2 separate regions of the Homo sapiens genome follow, and region 1 is linked to region 2. The links come from fine-mapping of genetic effects on gene expression. Tissue or cell type: subcutaneous fat. Region 2 holds a variant in brackets; the other region holds the start of a gene. All regions are shown on one strand. Distances are from middle to middle.

Region 1 (4,154 bases), 58 kb before region 2:
CCACATCACCATCAGCAGTCACTCCCTATTCCTCTTCCCCTAGCCCCTGGTAACCATCAATCTGCTTTCTGTCTCTGTGGCTTTCCCTGTTCTGGACATTTCAGTCCATATCAATGGAATCACAGGCCGGGTGCGATCACTCACGTTTGTAATCCCCGTGCTTTGGGAGGCTGAGGCAGGAGGATTGCTTGAGGCCAGGAGTTCAAGACCAGCCTGGGCAACATAGCAAGAGTCCGTCTCTACAAAATAAAAAATAATTAGGCACAGTGGCTTGTGCCTGTAGTTCCAGCTACTTAGGAGGCTGAGGTGGAAGGATCGCCTGAGCGTAGGAGGCTGAGGCCACAGTGAGCTATGATTGTGCCACTGCACTCCAGCCTGGGCAACAGAACAAGACCCTGTCTCTTAAAAGAAAAAAAAAAAAAGGAAACAAGGAAACAAGGCACCAATACATACATGATACAATGTGGTTGAACCTCAACAACACAATACTAAGTGAAAGAAGCCAGACACAAAAGGCCACACAGTGTGAGAGTACATTTATTTATTTATTTTGGAGACAGGGTCTCACTCTGTCGCCCAGGCTGGAGTGCAGTGGCGAAATCTCGGCTTACTGCAGCCTTGACCTCCTGGGCTCAAGTGATCCTCCCACCTGAGCCTCCTAAGTAGCTGGGACTATAGGTGCAGGCCACCATGCCTAGCTTTTTTTTTTTTTTTTTAAGGCAGGGTCTGACTATGTTGCCCAGGCTGGCCTTGAACTCCTGGGCTCAAGTGATCCTCCCGCCTCGGCCTTCCAAAGTGCTGGGATTACAGGCCTGAGCCACTGCGCCTGGCCCTTCGTTCCTTTTTATGGCTGAATATTCCTCCACTGCATGGATACGCCACATTTTGTTTATCCATTGTCCACAGCTAGACATTTGGGCTGTTTCCACGTTGGGGCTTTTTTTTGTTTTGAGACGGAGTTTTGCTCTTTCACCCAGGCTGGAATGCAGTGGCACAATCTCGGCTCACTGCAACCTCCACCCACCCGGTTCAAGCAATTCTCCTGTTTCAGCCTCCCAAGCAGCTAGGATTACAGGCACCTGCCACCACGCCCGGCTAATTTTTGTATTTTTATAGAGATGGGGTTTCACCATGTTGGCATGTGCCACCATGCCTATCTGATTTTTGTATTTTTAGTAGAGACGGGGTTTCACTATGTTGGCCAGGCTGGTCTCAAACTCTTGACCTCAAGTGATCCGCTTGCCTCGGCCTCTCAAAGTGCCTGGATTACAGGTGTGAGCCACAGTGCCTGGCAATTTCTGCTGTTTAAGCCACCCAGTCTGTGGTATTAGTTATGACAGCCCAAGCTGGAAATACAGACACTTTTCTCTGTGTAGTAAACACTCACTCACTTGCACACGTCATTCAATAAATATGTACTGGGCACCTAATACGTGTGCGATGCTGGGGAAAGAGGTGGCACAAATGAGCTTTCTGCCTGCATGGGACTCCCAGAGAAGAGCCAACACATGCAATCAGAGTCCTAATAAGGACACGCAGGGCGCCGGGGAAGCCCGGAGAGGGCTTCTGACCCAGCCTGGGTCAAAGGGCTTCCTAAAGGAGACATCTAAGGAAAAGTCTGAATGAGTGGGGGAGAGCGCAGCCTGCACGCGGGATGCAGGAGGTAGGCTGGAAAAGGGGGCGATTTGTATTCCAGGGAGATGGGAAGGTGTGGAGGGCGTTAGAGCCGGGAAGCCCAATCTATGGGTCACACAAGCCCTCTGGGGTTAGTGAGGAGGTGGACTCCCCAGATGGCAGGAGCTGGGAGCCCAGGCGGTACCCAGGGAGTGGCTCAGGCTGGGCGAGGGGCACACTTAGAAGCGAATCAAGACCCATGGGGATTAAGACCCCACGGATGTGAAGGTAAAATAACAGAATACAAAATTCAACAATGCCTCCTCTAAGCAGCCCTCCCGGCTATCCCTTTTGAAGTCCCCCACCACTAATCCCCCTACAAGAGGCCGGGGGAGTCCGCGCCCAACTCTGTCCCTCTCGAGACCAGAAGCTGCCTAGGGGCAGTCCGGGGCCAGGTGGCCTCGAACATGCTGTCGCGTCGGGCTTCAATCGTCTAGTCTGGAAATGGGCATCGCCCCCAACTAGGTGCGGTTCAGACTGGACGCCAGAAGTGCTCCTGCCTCCCAGCACCCCTCCTCCAGCCTTCCCAGGGGATGGTCCCAGGCCAAGCAGCCCCCGCCCCGCGCCTCTGCTCCCCGAACCCGGGTTCCGCCCGCGCCGCAGACGCTCCTACCTTCTTACCCCAGCGCCGGCCCGGTCGCGCCTCCGTGACGTCATCATGGGGCCTGCGCGCTGAGCTCCTGGCGGCGCGCACTCATTGCGCCTCAGTACCGCCGCCATTTTGGTAAAGAAAAAGATGGCTGGGCCTCGGACCCAAGCCAGGGTAGTCAGCCACTTCTTTGTCTCTTCAAAAAGAGGACACTTAATACGCCCTCATTCCCTACGCTCATTTAATATGTTGATGAACCAGGAGGGGCGGGCAGAGGCGAAAATCTAGAACATTGCCTTTACCAAGATGGCCGATGCCCGGATGAAAGATGGCAGCTGCGACTACACACGTGGTCCGGCGGCTTCAGCCTGGAGCGGCCCGGCCGCCAGAGCGCGCCCGCGGTCCATGAGGGGAGGTGGACCCAGTATAGCCCTGAGGAAGCCTCTCCGTAGCTCTTCGCAATCCCTTAACGCTTTAAAAGTGCTTTCCTAGTCCTGAGTCTCTGCGTCCCACTGGTGACGCTGGGGCGGGGCTAGGAGAGGGGAGATAAATGGGGCAGAGAAATTAACACACACCGCGCAGTCCAGGTAGGGAAACCGAGGCTCAGAGAGACCAGGAATTGAGTTTGGCCAAAATGTAACCGCGAGTAGGCTCATAACCGCGAGTAGGCTCAAATTCCGTCTCTTGCTCCTGCCAGTGCCTCTTCCTGGATTGCTGACCTGCTCCCCACTTCTGCAATATTATTTATTAATTTTATTTAGAAATTAGGTTTGAGGCGCCAATTTGTCTTAGGCACTATACTTTAGATTTTCTGCATTTACTACTTCTCGGTGTTCTCAACAGTAAAAATGGCAGTATTAGGGGTCTAAGGTTACACTGGTCCTGACTGTGGAGAGGGAAAAGCAAATGCTTTGGGGGCAGTTCAGGTAGGAGTAGTTGACCACAGAGTCCATTCCCTAAAAGGCATCCCCCCAGCGACCTTGCTGGGACCTAAATCCCAGTGCGCGATGCACCTCCCCTGCTCTAACGCCTCCCCTGGGTTCCCATTGTCCCGCAAGACTCCTCCCACCTCCCACCCCATCTCCCTTGGCTTCCCTCACCCTCCCATTAGCTCTCTGCTCAGGTCGCACCAGCCCCCTTCTTACAAATTGCCAGGCGCAGTCTTGCCTCAGGGAGTTCCCCCAGGAATTTCCCAGGTTTTTCCGTGGCCAGTTCCTTCCCTTCAGGCATGAGACAGAAAGGTCTCTGGGTGCAGGGGGCTTAAAGTCGGAAAATCACATGAAAGATTATTATCCTGGCTGGTCGCAGTGGCACATGCCTGTGATCCCAACCCTTTGGAAGGCTAAGGTGGGAGGATCGCTTGAGGCCAGGTGTTTGAAAGCAGCCTGGGCAACATTATGAGACCCCATCTCGACAGAAGATAAAAACATTAGCTGGGCGTGGTGGCATGCTCATCCTCCCATTCAAGAGAATCACTTGAGCCCAGAAGTTGGAGGGTGCAGTGAGGTATGATAGCGCCACTGCACTCCAGCCAGCCTGGGTGAAGGAACCTCTCTTAAAAAATACTAATAAAGGCCAGGCATGGTGGCTCACGCCTGTAATCCTAGCACTTTGGGAGGCCGAGCCAGGCAGATCACCTGAGGTCAGGAGTTTGAGACCAGTCTGACCAACATGGTGAAACCCTGTTTCTACTAAAAACACAAAAATTAGCTGGGCGTGGTGGCACATGCCTGTAATCCCAGCTACTTGGGAGGCTGAGGCAGGAGAATCACTTGACCCCAGGAGGCAGAGATTGCAATGAGCCGAGATCGTGCCATTGCACTCCAGCCTGGGCTACAGAGTGCAACTCCATCTCAAAATAAATAAATAAATAATAATAATAAAGGCCAGG
Region 2 (4,154 bases):
CACGCTGACTTCACCCTCCCAAGGGCCCCAGACAGCGCTTCTGGACCTTATAGGGGACATTTGGAGTGGGTTTTGTTGGCCAGGCGCAGTGGCTCATGCCTGTAATCCCAGCACTTTGGGAGGCCAAGGCGGATGGATCACCTGAGGTCACAGTTCAAGGCCAGCCTGGCCAACATGGTGAAACCCCATCTCTATAAAAATACAAAAATTAGCTGGGAATAATGGCGGGTGCCTCTAATCCCAGCTACTTGGGAGGCTGAGGCAGGAGAATCACTTCAACCCAGGAGGCGGAGGTTGCAGTGAGCTGAGATCGTGCCATTGCACTCCAGCCTGGGTGACAGAGCGAGACTCCATCTCAAAAAAAAAAAAATTAATTAAATTAAAAATAAATAAATAATAAATGGAGTGGGTTTGACATATGCATAGGCATTTGCCAGATTGAAAATTCACGTATTTGTTTACTGAATCATCTATCCACGCACTTAAAAACCTTTCTTTGCCCAGCTGAGAGTTCAGAGAGGCTTTAGCCCCCAATCTGGTCTGAGGGGAGGAGAAGAGAGCAGCGAGGGCCTCCTGGAGCAGGAGGCATTGGCTGATTTCTACCATCCCACGGCACAAAGGGAGCCCAGCCCCATCCTCTTTTTTTTTTTTTAAAGATGGAGTTTCGCTCTTGTTGCCCAGGCTGGAGTGCAATGGTGTGATCTCGGCTCACCGCAGCCTCCGCCTCCTGGGTTCAAGCGATTCTCCTGCCTCAGCCTCCCCGAGTAGCTGGAATTACAGGCATGCGCCACCACGCCCTGCTAATTTTTTTTTTTTTTAGGGGGGGGACGGAGTCTCTCTCTGTCACCAGGCGGGAGTGCAGTGATGCCATCTCGGCTCACTGCAACCTCTGCCTCCTGGGTTCAAGCAATTCTCCTGCCTCAGCCTCCTGAGTAGCTGGGATTACAGGCGCCTGCCAGCATGCCCAGCTAATTTTTGTATTTTTAGTAAAGACGGACTTTCATCAAGTTGGCCAGGATGGTCTCAATCTCTTGACCTCATGATCTGCCATCCTTGGCCTCCCAAAGTGCTGGGATTACAGGCGTGAGCCACCGCGCCCAGCCTAATTTTGTATTTTTTAGTAGAGATGGGGTTTCTCGATGTCGGTCATGCTGGTCTCAAATTCCTGACCTCAGGTGATCCCCCCGCCTTGGCCTCCCAAAGTGCTGGGATTACAGGCATGAACCACTGCACCCAGCCTCTTTTTTTTTTTTTTTTTGAGACAGGGTCTAGCTCTGTCATCCAGGCTGGAGTGCAGTAGTGTGATCTCAGCTTGCTGCAGCCTCCACCTACCGGGCTCAAGCAATCCTCCAGCCTCAGCCTCTCAACTACCTGGGACCACAGGTGCACCACCACGCCCAGCTAATTTTTGTATTTTTGTAGAGATGGGTTTTCACCATGTTGCCCAGGCTGGTCTTGAACTCCTGAGCTCAAGTGATCTGCCCGCCTCGGCCTCCCAAAGTGCTGGGATTACAGGCATGAGCCACCGCACTGGTCCCAGCCCCATCCTGCTGGAGTATCCTCTGCATTTTCACTCACTCCATGAGGTTGATCCGGGAGTGGTTCTGGGCCAGCGTGAGCACCTGGCGGGGCCCGCCCACAAGCATGACACCGCGTGCCAGGACAACCCAGAAGCCACTTAGCATCACCACGACCTGGAACACATCAGTCCAGACCACAGCCTTCATGCCGCCCTGCAGCATGGGACAGAGAGAGGGAGAGGGGCGGTTAGATGGGGGACCTGGCCTTCAGTGGTGCCTAGGACTGATGCCCTTCTATGCCTCAGTCTCCTCCTCTCTAAAGTGGGATTAATAATAATACCTTCTTACTGTGTTGTTGTAAGAATTAAGTTAGTTATTTTATTTTTAAAGAAAAGGTTTCTGTCTTTTGCCCA[G/A]GCTGGAGTGCAGTGGTGTGATCACAGCTCACTGCAGACTGGAACTCTTAGGCTCAAGTGATCCTCCTGCCTCAGCCTCCGGAGTAGCTGGAGCTACAGCAGGTGCCACCATGCCCGACTAATTTAAAAAAAATTTTTTTTGTAGAGATGGGGGCGGGGGGGGGTCTCACTATGTTGCCTAGGCTGGTCTCGAACCCCTGGCCTCAAGTGATCCTCCTACCTTGGCCTCTCAAAGTGCTGGGATTACAGGTATGAGCCACTGTGCCCAGTAGAATTAAACAAGTTAATAAGTGAAAAAGATTTGGAATATGACTTGACATATACGAGTGTCAGTGAGTGATTGCTGCCATTACTATTATTATTATTATTATTATATTTTTTTGAGATGGAGTCTTGCTCTGTCGCCCAGGCTGGAGTGCAATGGCGCAATCTCCACGCACCGCAACCTCCACCTCCCGGGTTCAAGCGATTCTCCTGCCTCAGCCTCCTGAGAGGCTAGGATTACAGGCGCGTGCCACTGCGCCCAGGTAATTTTTGTATTCTTAGTAGAGACGGGGTTTCATCATGTTGGCCAGGCTGGTCTCGAACTCCTGACCTTAGGTGATCCGCCTGCCTCTGCTTCCCAAAGTGCTGGGATTACAGACGTGAGCCACCGCGCCCGGCCGCCATTACTATTATTATCACTACGATGATAATATCGCCATCAAGGTCAGACCTGAGCCAGCCAAAGGTAGCCCTCCCTGGGACCTCAGCCAGCCCCAGGATGAAGCAGGAGCTCACTTCCTGCTGGACTGGAAGCCAGAAGAGGTGGAAGCCTGGATCCAGCCATGCCTGAAGCTACCATACCTCTAGATTCTCAGCAATAAGCTTTTCAGATCATTTTTCACTATAAAGATGAGGACACTGGGTCCCAGCTGGGACAGAGGCTTCCTCAGGAGAAAGGGGCAAGCCCAGAGTCTCCCCACAAGAGACACAGTGGGCCCGATCCCCCGTATGGAGTGAGTTCCCAGGGCCACTCACCACAGCCGTGTAGAAGGTGCAGATAATTCCGGTGGACAGGAGCGACGCCCAGATGTCCAGCCCGGTCACTATGCAAAAAGAGGTCCCCCTGTTAGGCCCCTGGGCGGGGCGCAAACTTAGTCTTGGGTTCTCCTCTCCCTCCCTTTCTCTTCCCAGACATGCTTCCCTAATCTCCCAGAGTCACACCTTGGTTCAGGATGAGGGCCGGTGCGTAGATTACGATGCCGGTGTACAGCATCTGTAGACAGAGTGTGGGGCGGGTGAGCAGGGAGGGCGTCTGGGCGAGTTGGGGATGGGGAGAGGAGGCAGAAGGGTGGTCCCAGAATATGGGCGGGGCAGATAGGCCGGGTCTTCCAGAGTGCAGGCGGGGTCAGGCCGGCTGTGGTGTGGGAGGGGACTGATGGGGGCGGGGTCAGAACGGGAGCATGGGGGGCGGGGTCTGGGCGGGGTCTTGAATGGTGGGGGCCGGGCTAGTGAAGGCTGACGCTCTCGGGGCCCTGAGCGGAGGGCGGGGCCGAGGCCACTCACCGTGGCTACAATGTACTGCAAAGTCCCGCAGAGCCGCACTGCGCGGCTGAAGCGCATCTCCAGGTACTGCAAGGAGGGACTCGAGGTCACCTGGACAGTCCTTACCCAGGAGCCGAGGCCTCTCGGGTCCCTGGTCTGCTCTCTAGGTGGGCCCCTCCCTCCGGAAGCCAACCGCGCCCGCCAGATTCTTGCACGTGGGGGCCCCGCCGCACGCACACACCCGTGCACAGGTGCCATCCCGTGCCTGTGCGTACCCCGTGGACCTGGAGGACTGGTCCATGCGTGTGCACGCGCCCTCCCACTTGCGCCTGACGGGCGCGGGCTCCTGGAGCAGCCACCGCTCAGCAGACACCGACGTGGCCCGCAAGCGCACAGTGTAGACAGTGCCCCGGGCCAATGGTGTTGGCCGCCTAGGATATACCTGTCACGATTTTTTTGGGGGGGAGGGGGGACGGAGTCTCGCTCTGTCGCCCAGGCTAGGGTGCACTGGCACGATCTCGGCTCACTGCAACCTCCGCCTCCCAGGTTCAAGCAATTCTTCTGCCTCAGCCTCCTGAGTAGCTGGGATTACAGGCGCGCGCGACCATGCCCGGCTAATTTTTGTATTTTTAGTAAAGACGGGGTTTCACCATGTTAGCCAGGCTGGTCTTGAACTCCTGACCTCGTGATCCAC

What was found. PIP is the estimated chance that this variant, and not a neighbour inherited with it, causes the effect.
Region 1: CCDC124 starts here. The variant in region 2 is the best candidate, but not a certain one, in a credible set for the expression of CCDC124 in subcutaneous fat (GTEx, PIP 0.73).

The regions. Positions count from the first base shown.
Region 1 is chr19:17,931,182-17,935,335 of GRCh38, reverse strand. CCDC124 (coiled-coil domain containing 124) reads right to left here and starts at 2,321. Exons shown (of 5, transcript NM_001136203.2): 1 at 2,288-2,321. RefSeq lists a silencer at 2,159-2,208 and enhancers at 2,289-2,478, 2,499-2,558, 2,705-3,243.
Region 2 is chr19:17,873,531-17,877,684 of GRCh38, reverse strand. SLC5A5 (solute carrier family 5 member 5) reads right to left here. Exons shown (of 15, transcript NM_000453.3): 2 at 3,482-3,547; 3 at 3,140-3,191; 4 at 2,954-3,021; 5 at 1,579-1,733. Among named protein-coding and RNA genes, the nearest start is that of SLC5A5, 3.7 kb to the right of the region's middle. RefSeq lists a silencer at 3,276-3,405 and an enhancer at 3,198-3,970. The variant G/A (reference allele first, on the strand shown) is at 1,934.